2 separate regions of the Homo sapiens genome follow, and region 1 is linked to region 2. Evidence: fine-mapped expression QTL. Tissue or cell type: whole blood. Region 2 holds a variant in brackets; the other region holds the start of a gene. All regions are shown on one strand. Distances are between the middles of the regions. Region 1 holds the start of AKIRIN2 (akirin 2). Region 2 overlaps AKIRIN2 (akirin 2).

Evidence for each region. PIP is the estimated chance that this variant, and not a neighbour inherited with it, causes the effect.
Region 1: it holds the start of AKIRIN2, and the variant in region 2 is fine-mapped to the expression of AKIRIN2 in whole blood (TOPMed, PIP above 0.99).

The regions. Positions count from the first base shown.
Region 1 is chr6:87,699,761-87,705,139 of GRCh38, forward strand. AKIRIN2 (akirin 2) reads right to left here and starts at 2,473. Exons shown (of 5, transcript NM_018064.4): 1 at 1,690-2,473. The coding sequence starts at 1,924. RefSeq lists silencers at 1,645-1,854, 2,035-2,204 and enhancers at 2,365-2,424, 2,735-3,044.
Region 2 is chr6:87,669,752-87,675,130 of GRCh38, forward strand. It overlaps AKIRIN2 (akirin 2), which reads right to left. Exons shown (of 5, transcript NM_018064.4): 5 at 5,109-5,379. It also overlaps a transcript of ORC3 not described here. Among named protein-coding and RNA genes, the nearest start is that of AKIRIN2, 30 kb to the right of the region's middle. RefSeq lists a silencer at 2,807-3,007. The variant CACA/C (reference allele first, on the strand shown) is at 2,161.

The DNA of each region.
Region 1 (5,379 bases), 30 kb after region 2:
GGAGGAACATGGTATAGTCCCCAATTGTTCACATACATGCCCAAGATTATTTTGACATTGAGATATAGTACTTTAATTCCCAAACCTAGCACTGTATTAATTCACTCCCTCGACTGAAATGTATTGCTGGTTAGCTCCTTAATGACCTTATTTTGAAATGGCTTTATTAGTTAAGTACAGAATCCATTTCAATTTCCAATGATACCATTTCACTAAAAGACAAATTCCAAAAATGTCAACCACCAGTAGCTCATTCTTGACATTGGCTGTTTCCTTTTTTTTTTCCCAAAGTAAAGCCTAACAATTAATCAACAAATGCCTTTTCAATCTAATTAAAACACAGTTTAGTAAGGTCATTAAATAAATTTATCTAAGAATTTCCGTAAAAACTCACTACAACTCTAAAACAGTATGTCCTTAAATTAGACCAAATATTTAATAGCAAAAATGGTAGCTTGCATATTCGAGGGTCACTCCATGGATTTAGAAAATATTTTTAAATGTGACAAAAAAAAAAAAACACTAAAGTCAGTTTCAAATGGAAGTCACCAAATACAGAGGTATATACTTCGGTTTTTTAAGCTACTGATAACGAGACATTTAAATCAAGCTATGGAAAGGCTTTGTCTAAAGGGTGATATTATTACTAAAGGCTCACACAGAAATCTTTGCATGCTACACACAAAGGAAACATTTACACTTCTAGTCCACAAAAGCCTATCCTAGGATTGTGCCAGGGGCACACAAGGATTTCAAAGTACAGAAAAAACTGGGCATACACATGCCCTACAAAGCAGCCAAAAGACATTCCCCAGTCTCTCTCAGGAAATGTTTCAAGATGAAAAGCAAAAGTCTGAAGTCCCTTGGAATCTTGGGTTGATTTCTTCATTATTCTCAAGGCTAGGTTGTTTTCCCCCAGCATACTTTGTTGGGCAAAAATAAAACATTTCCAAATAAAAGCAACTCCTCAGCCCCAATTTTCAATGCAATATGCTTATTAAAAGTTCAACATTTCTCAAGGTCTAGACTTATAGTGTGATCATATTACAGTACTCGGGAAGAGCATTTTCTTTGTTGTTGACCCTGCTAGGGAAACAGGTCTTGACTCAGCCAAAGTGGCGTTCTTGTGGGTGATTAATGACAGGCCTAGATCTCGCCCTAGTGACATCCATCCCCCACCCCCCACCCCCACTATACTAAAATCAGCCGTGTCTGAACTGAAGGAGGGGCTGTAGCCTCGCCTCAAACCACCCAGTCCCAGAGTTAATAGCTGCAACCAATCGATTACGGCAAGCACACATCCAGATTGGGGTGAAATGTGACCCTTTCGCCTAAATTTACGAATAATATCGTCCTCTCTGATCATTTCCGCTGGGGCTCCAGCGACTACGGAAACAATTCCAATCATTCGGCCCAAAGAAAAAGATGTCCCTGTTCTACCCAATACGGGCAAGGCAAAGCCCCTACCCACCTCCAAACACTATCCCCTTGACATCAGCCCATTTCTATTGTGTCTTATTAGGTCCTCGGGCTACGAGGACCTAGTGAAAAACGTGGCTGCCCTACTACTTTGCTAAGAACAAGAACCACACAGTCCGGCACCCCCACCCCAGGGGCCGCATCCCACACCCCAGGACCCCTGTTCCCAGTTCTCTCCACTACCCCGGCGGCCGCGGGGCCGGGTCCCACCTGTGGTGAGGCGGGAGGAGACGTCGCCGAAGGGGGATGGCTCCATTCGGAGATACTTCTGCGGCGAGGCGGCCGCAGCGGAGAAGGAGGCGGCGGTGGCCGCGGCCGCCGACAACGGGGAGGCAGCGGCCGAGGTGGGCGCCGACAATGGCGCACATCGCCTGCGCTTCGGGGACGCCGGGCTCAACAGCGGGTCGAAATCCAGAGTCCTTTTCAGAGTGGCTCCGCACGCCATGGCCGGGGGCAGCTGAGGCGCCGGGCTCGGGTGGGGTCGGGGACGGGTGACGAAAGAAGAGGGTGAGGGAAGGGGTGAAGAGCGGGAACTCGAGGAGAGCCTACCCGACGGGCTCAGGAGCCAAGCGGGTCGCGGAGCGCCGGCTGTGGAAAGGAGAGCCGCTGCCGCCGCTGCCTCCGCGGCAGGGGCAGTGGCCAGGGACGGCCCGGGTGAGAGCGGGAGGGGCGGTGGCGGGCAGAAGCACACGCCAGTCGCGTCAGGGGGGTTCTTCCGCCTCCTCAGGCGCGGCTCCCCCGAGAGAGGCTCCGGCCGCCCCCGCCGTCCGCTCGAGCTTTGCGCCGCGCCTGAGGCGCTTCTGTGCTGAGACTAGATCCTTTCTGAAGTCGAAAACAGCACCGTGGGGTGTGAGGCTGGAACGCGGCTCCTAATACGCCCGAGTACGGTCAGTAGCTTGCGAGCGGCGATCGATGCAGAGAGATTGCGAGGTAGCTGCCGCAGCAGGAACCCAAGCGAACACGTCCAACCGCTTCCCCTCCCTCGTAGAACTCTCCCACCCGCCGCCGGCCCCAATATGGCGTCAATAACAACGCCGCCGATTCAAATCCGGCGGCCTCAGAGCGCTTGCGCACGGGGGCGGGCCAAACCGGGGATGCATTTTGGGAGTTGTAGTTTTTAGGTACCGGGAGGAATCGGCTTGAAAGGCGGGAAGGGAGGAGTCACAGAAACTACGACTTCCGTCATGCAAGGCGCGCGATTCCGAGTTCCGGGTTGGAATTTAAATCCCCCTACACAGCTTGAGTGTAAGAGGAACTAAGCAAAAGAGAAAAAAAGAGAAGGTTCTGAGACAGTGGGAGATGGGAAAGCGAACCCGTGGCAAAAGCAGGCTAAGCGACATAGAAATCTTTTAAGATTCTCCGTATAGTTGCTCCCACAGTGATTTCAGATCTGGGAAATATAATAAACCAATCTCTAGTCAAAGTTAGCTTAATTTCGGTAGCGACAGTACCCAAAACAAGACCTTTCACATGGAGAGGATAGGAGATAATGAGATTATGAAACCTATTTAGGACTGGCAGACAGAACAACAGTAATAGTATCAGGTTACAGGATCCTTGATTCAACTCGATGCTCTACCCTTCGGAGGTAGCTGCTTCATCCACTAATGAAATTCTGTAAAGCCAGCTTTGCTTCTGTAAATGAATAGGACTTGAACGACTTACAGAATCAAATTGTTTTGCGTTGGGTAAAAAGCAAGTGGTATCAGACATTGCATTACTTCTGTTGAATATTGGTGCATATATTGTGAACTTTGTTACAAAACTAATCAAAAGACAGTGAAATGTTTAGGTAATAGATATTGGATGGATCCATTTTGTAAGCGGAAGGGGAAAAAAGTGTTTCTAGAAGTTGTACTTTTAGTCACATACCTAAAATAAGAATCAAATACAGCGCTAATTTAGAAAGTGATCTGTGTAGCCGGGCATGGTGACTCACGCCTGTTATCCCAGCACTTTGGGAGGCCGAGGCAGGCGGATCTTCCTGAGGTCAGGAGTTCGAGACCAGCCTGGTCAAAATGGTGAAACCCCGTCTCTACTAAAAATACAAAATTAGCCGAGCGTGGTGGCGCGCGCCTGTAGTCGCAGCTACTCGGGAGGCTAAGACAGGAGAATCATTTGAACCCGGGAGGCGAAGGTTGCAGTGAGCCGAGATGTTGCCACTGCACTCCAGCCTGGGTGATAGAGCGAGTCTCTGTCTGAAAAAAATGAAAAGAAAAGAAAATGATGCCGGGCGCGGTGGCTAACGCCTGTAATCCCAGCACTGGGAGGCCGAGGCAGGCGGATCACGAGGTCAGGAGTTCGAGACCAGCCTGTTCAACATGGTGATACCCTGTCTCTACTAAAAATAAAAAAAATTAGCCGGGCGTGGTGGCGCACACCTATAGTCCCAGCTACTCAGGAGGCTGAGGCAGAAGAATCGCTTGAACCCGGGAGGCGGAGGTTGCAGTGAGCCAAGATCAAGCTACTGCACTCCAGCCTGGGTGACAGAGCTAGACTTCGTCTCAAAAAAAAAAAAAAAAAAAAAAAGTGATATATGTAGAAACTATCACCAGTGCAATATGAAACAATTTTGTGAATGCCAACTGTCAAATGATTATAAATACTGATTTCCAGTGCTCATGTATTCTTCTTTATTCAGTAACAGATGTTTTATAGCCATTTTGTCTATTATTTTTAAACCATATTTAGAAGTAGTTCAATATATTCTTTTTTATAGACAATTTTATAGAATTGTCCAGTGCTTCAGAGATCAGCAGTCCTGATCACACTGTGTCAACAAGTAAGCCCTTCTAGTTTTAATTTAGGATATTTGGAAATATCCTACATTTCCTACATTTGGAAAATCTTTTGAAAAAGATAAGCATTTAATGAAACAGCAGCTTAACTAAGACACCTACTAGGTAAATTTCTAGTAAATTCTAAACACTTGGTAATATTTTCTGAAATTAAGATTTGCCCATAAGTTATAAAACCTACATTTGAAATGTGATGTTGTGAGTTAAATTCCCTATGTTTGAGGGAATTCAAGGACTTCAAAATTCATATGAAGTCCTAACCTCCAGTACCTTAGAATATGACTTTACTTAGGAATAGGATTATTTCAAATGTAATTAGCTAAATGTAGTAGGATGGGCCCCTAATCCAATATGACTGGTATTCTTATACAAAAAAGGAAATTTGGGCCAGGTGCGGTGGCTCACACCTGTAATCCCAGCACTTTGGAAGGCCGAGGTGGGAGGATCACTTGAGGCCAGGAGTTTGAGGCTAGCCTGGGCAATGATAAGAAACCTCATCTCTACAAAAATTTTTAAAAAATTAACTAGGCATGGTGGTGGTCACCTGTGGTCCCAGCTACTCGGGGCAGCTGAGGTGAGAGGATTGCATGAGCCCAGAAGGTTGAGGCTGCAGTAAGCTGTAATCACACCACCACACTCCGGCCAGGGTGTCATAGCCAGACCCTGTCTCAAAAAAAAAAAAAAAAAAAAGAAAAGAAAAAAAGGCCAGGGTGAAGGGGAGACTGGGTGGGGGTGGGAATTTGAACCCAGGCATGGGCCCAAGGGAATTTTGACCCACATGAACATGAACATGAAAATAGAGATTAGGGTGATGCTTCTACAAGCCAAGGAATGCCAAAGATTGCCAGCAAAACACCAGAAGCTAGGAGAGAAGTTGTTCTCCCTCAGTCCTCAGAAGGAACCAACCCTGAAAACACCTTCTCAGAGTTGTATTCTCTAGACCATGAGACAATAAATTTCTGTAGGTTAAGCCATCCAGTTTGTGGTACTTTGTTATGGCAACTGTAAGAAACTAATACAGAGAGGATTGTGGTTATCAGGCTATCATTTGAAATATACCAGAATGCCTAGAAAATGAGGAAAGTATTTTTTTGTTTAATTG
Region 2 (5,379 bases):
GTTGGTACAAATCTAGGGAAAGAATAGGTGATTTTAATGATTTTTCCATCTATTTAAGGTAAGGAAGTTGGCAACAGGGAAGGTCTTCCAATACAAGGACACCATCACTACGTACAATGTAGTTTCAAATGATGCATATGAGCACCAGATAAAATTGTCAGTGTTTAGAAACTATTACTTTGAACAACACTCATACAGCAAGATGCTTTTTACACTGTAAGGTACAGAGGAACTGGCCTCACACAGACCAGCAGATTCATATATAAGGCACAGATTCACTGAGTAGAGTAAGTAGCCATGCCTTACTTTTCCTCTGCTGGGCACTAAGTTGAATTTATCCAACATAAACGCATGTCATGCCCTGAACCACTTTGACTTTCCTCACTAAAGATTATGTAAGAAAGTAGCAGGATGGCAACTGCCCTATTTTCTTTTTCGAGACAGAATTTCACTCTGTCACCCAGAGTGCAGTGACACGATTTGGGCTCACTGCAACCTCTGCCTCCTGGGTTCAAGCCATTCTCCTGCCTCGGCCTCCCAAGTAGCTGGGACCACAGGTGTGTGCCACCACGCCCAGCTAATTTTTGTATTTTTAGTAGAGATGGGGTTTTGCCATGTTGGCCAGGCTGGTCTTGAACTCCTGGGCTCAAGCGATCCACCCACCTAGGCTTCCCAAAGTGCTGGGATTACAGGCATGAACCACCGTGCCCAGTCGAAAACTGCCCTATTTTCACAATGAATACACAAAAGAGCTATAAAATTAAAACATGAAGCTCCTTTGTGGTAATCATTAATGGAGCACAAAACCCTCAAGACAGCCTATGAAATGCCAGTTCAATTCTGTGTCCATTCTGTAATTCAGGAAACCTCTACCAAAATATCTTACAAAGGAAGTATTCTGCCTTACTAAATCTTTCATTTAATGAAATACTGATCTGAAAACCCTGAATCGAAGTAGGGTGAAATACATTCAAAAAGTACCAAGCATGTGCCATGTGCCAGGCACTGTATGCCAGTGAGCAAAGAACCCTGCCTTCACTGCGTTTAGCACAGGAAGTAAAACAAAGAAAGCAGCAGGGCAGAGCACCAGGATGTCAGGCTGCAATTTTAAAGAGTGGTCAGAGCAGGCTTCATTGAGATGACGTTTGTGCAAAAAGTCAAAAGTGGTGAAAAAATTTTCCATGAAGTTTTGTGGGAGAAGAGCATGCTAGGCAGACACTAGCAGTAACAAAAATCCTATGCTGGAAAAACAGCAAAAGTGGCCAATGTGGACAAGGTAGAGTGAGCAGGAGGAATTCAATAGGAATTGAATGAGGTGGGGTAGAGTGCAGGTAATTTAGGGCTCCACAGACCTTTGTGAAGTTTTACTTTTACTTAGGAAGCCATCTAAACAAGACTTAGACTTTTAAAGGATCAGTCTGGTTGCTATGAGAGTAGAATAGGATGGGTGAGAGGAGACAAAATGAGGCAAAACAAAGACCGGTTAGGAAACCACAGAAATAATCCAAGCAAGCTATGATAGTGTCTTGGATTAGGGTAATAGCAGTAGAGATGTTAATATTTTAAGGTGGAACTAAGATCAGATGAAGGATGTGAGGAGTGCAAGACCATTTCTGCCTAGAAACAAAGAATGGAGTGGCCATTAAGTGATTGAGGATGACTGAGAGGAAAAATTTCAGAGGCAAAAGTAAGTTTTAGACGTAAATTTCGAGGTGTCTACTAGATACCTAACTGAAGATGTCACATGAAGACGTTAATATAATCTGATGTCCTTATGATGAGATCACCAAGATGAGTACTAAGAGAGGAGGCAAGCAGCCCAAGGTCAAGCTCGGGGGCACACCTATGTTTTAGCAAAATGCAGGGAAATGAAGATTGGGCCAACAGCAAGACAGAGAAGGAGCAGCCAGTAAAGGAGAAACGTCAAAGCAAGTGTAGTATTTTGCAAGCCAACTGAAGAGTGCTTCAAGGTCAAATGCTGGCTGCTGATTAGATTTAACAATGTGGAAATCTTTGCTGCCTTTTACTAAGAGTAACAGAGAGGAGACGAACTCTAATCACCTATCAGATGACCTAACCAAGTGTCCAAACTTAACAGCCTGGAAAAGCCGTAACTGTTGTGATGCAATATGGAGACCATAGCATCACCTTGCACTCTTG[CACA/C]ACAAGTTTAACCCGAAACTTGCGAAAACTTTAGACCTTTCAGTTTACAGAAAGTTCAAAGGGATATCAGAAGTTAAAATTAATGACAGTACAAAGAAAAACTCAACAAGACAACAGGCCTAGTATTTCCAGAAAGTAGGAATCTTAATTGAATCGTGTTTGGGGGATGAGGGTAGCTATTTAAAAAAGAGACACATGGAAAAATCTGAAATAAGGACTCGATGTTAAATTAGGGAAGTATTTTAAGTGGGAAAGTCAACTTTTCTGTTTGAATTTCTTTTCCTAATAAAACAAGTTGGTGAAAAAAAAGGAAGGGGTAATAAACTGGAGGAAGTTTAGAAAACTGAGTTTTGCTTTTATAAAGGGGAGCACTAAAATAATCACTAGCAAGGGATATAGGATCAAAAGATTTTTTAATAACATGCTTATTATGCTTTTGGAAATGATTTAGTAGAGAAAGAAAATAGATGCAGTAGAGAGAGGAGAGGACTGCTGGAGCTGTATCTTTGCCTGAGACATAGGTTTGCATCTCGTGCTCCTTACCTGGGGCAAATGCAGGAGCAAGAGAATTGTGGGAGCCATGTATCCATGAGTAGACATAGACTATTCGGGTGCTTTTGTAGAATATTCATTTAATACCAATTACTGTAAGAGTTTGAAAGGAGTAAAGAGAACCCAAACAGGGCAAAAACAAGTCATTTCCAACCCTAGCTGCTTAAATCACCTAGGCAGCATATTAAACAGATTCCAAAAGTTCTCCCCTCCCACCAATTGTCTAAAGCAGTCTCTGGGGATAGGTAGAGCCTGAGAACCTTCTACCATTTTCTTTAGGGTCGTGTCAAGTGCTTGCCATAGGCCAAAGACAGCTTTAGTAGTTTAAACCTCCAATATTTATTTTTCTCAGATTGCCTATTTTTCCAAAAGTACAAACGCTTATACCTATGTGCACTTGTTAAAGATTTACTAAACACATCATAGTACAGTACTGTATCAGTACTGCCTTTTACTGGAAGAATAAGATGACTATTAACACAATTCTGTAGATACTTATTACAAGCAATTTCAGGGATTTGGGGAATTCAGAATCCCTAGGTAGCTAAAATAATCTATTGAAATCATGTGTGGTTGGTTATTTGGACTAATCAACTACCGGACCCATCTAAAGTCAGAGTAGCCCATAAGCTAGGACTTTTGCATAAGTGATAATGCAGAAATTTGGCTGTGGAGCAAAAAAAAAAAATTTTTTTTTTTTTTTTTTTTTTTTGAGACAGAGTCTCACTCTGTCACCCAGACTGGAGTGCAGTGGCATGATCTCAGCTCACTGCAACCTCTGCCTCCTGAGTTCAAGCGATTCTCGTGCTTCAGCCTCCCAAGTAGCTGGGACTACAGGCTATCCTGCTAACCAGTGGTTCTTAGCTGGGAACTGTTTTGTCCCTCAGGGACATTTGGCAATGTCTGCAAACACTTTGGTTATCACAATTGTGGGAGGGGGTTTAACTGGCCTCTAGTGGTAGAGGCCAGAGATGTGGCTAAATATCCTATAATGCACAGCAATAGCCACCACGACAAAGAATGATCTGGCCCAAACTGCCAGTAGTGCTGAAGTTGAGAATCTCTGTTCTAGACCATTAAAAGGGGGTAGAATTGGCCAGGCGCAGTGGCTCACGCCTGTAATCACAGCACTTTGGGAGGCTGAGGCAGGCAGATCATGAGGTCAAGAGATCGAGACCATCCTGGCCAACATGGTGAAACCCCGTCTCTACTAAAAATACAAAAATTAGCTGGGCGTGGTGGTGCATGCCGGTAGTCCCAGCTACTCGGGAGGCTGAGGCAGGAGAATCACTTGAACCCGGGAGGCGGAGGTTACAGTGAGCCGAGATGGCAGCACTGCACTCCAGCCTGGTGACAGAGCAAGACTCCATCTCAAAAAAAAAAAGTAGGGGGGAAGGGCATAGAATCATGCACCTTATTGCTACCCTGTGCTATACCAATGTTTCTCAACCACTAATTGGCATATAAATTGCCTGGGCACCTTGTGAAACCACTTTCTAGGCTTGTTTTAAACAGAGAATTGGTGAAATGTAATTACCAAAGCTAAAAATAAAAGAGGTCTGGCTGGGCGCAGTGGCTCACGCCAGCATTTTGGAAGGCCGAGGTGGGCAGATCACCTGAGGTCAGGAGTTCGAGACCAGCCTGGCCAAAATGGTGAAACCCTGTCTCTACTAAAAATACAAAAAATTAGCCGGGTGTGGTGGCACATTCCTGTAATGCCAGCAACTCAGGAGGCTGAGGCAGGAGAATCGCTTGAACCTGGGAGGCAGAGATTGCAGTGAGCCGAGATCGTGCCACTGCACTCCAGCTTGGGCAACAAGAGCAAAACTCTATCTCAAAAAAAAAAAAAAAAAAAAAAATTCCTTTTTCTTCTAACTTGGTCAGTTATAAATGTGTATTTAAGATTGTCTTAAATTTTGGAAATATGCTACTAGAATTCAACAAATGAATTCACTGAAGCATGTTTTTGCTTACTTCATTATAAGAAAGCTATGTCTAGAAACCATGTATGGAAAGGGAGTCAAATTTGCTGAATCATGCTTTTGCATATCAAGTTCTTAAAAGAAAAAACTGGATCCTACTGATATCTGAGGTAATTCTATAGCAATTAAAATACCTGTAACATTCTATCAGGCAGTAAGTTACAGAAGAAGGAATTTATATATATATATATATATTTTTTTTTTTTTAGTAGAGATGGGGTTTCACTGTGTTAGCCAGGATAGTCTCGATCTCCTGACCTCGTGATCCTCCCGCCTCGGCCTCCCAAAGTGCTGGGATTACAGGCATGAGCCACCGCGCCCAGCAGAAGAAGGCATTTAGAATCAGAACTCAGTGTTTTGAAACAGCACTCAAATCTTAGAAAATTAACTTCACTGATTCCTGGAAAATGCTTACGTTTTAAAACACCAACTTTATTCAAATACTAACCCCATCTGTACATTAAGAAACAAGCAAAATAGAAGTAAATGTTTTATTCTTCCAACTAAATTCCAGTACTACAAGGGCAGTAAAACAATGATACACTGGAAAAAAAAAAATGCAGCAATAAACATTTGTTAAAAAGACTGATAGAATAAATAAAACTACAAAAAAAAAAAAAATCATACAAACCCATTCTGAAACCCCAAGAAGTCCTGGAATACAGAAATGCCCTCCTCCTTC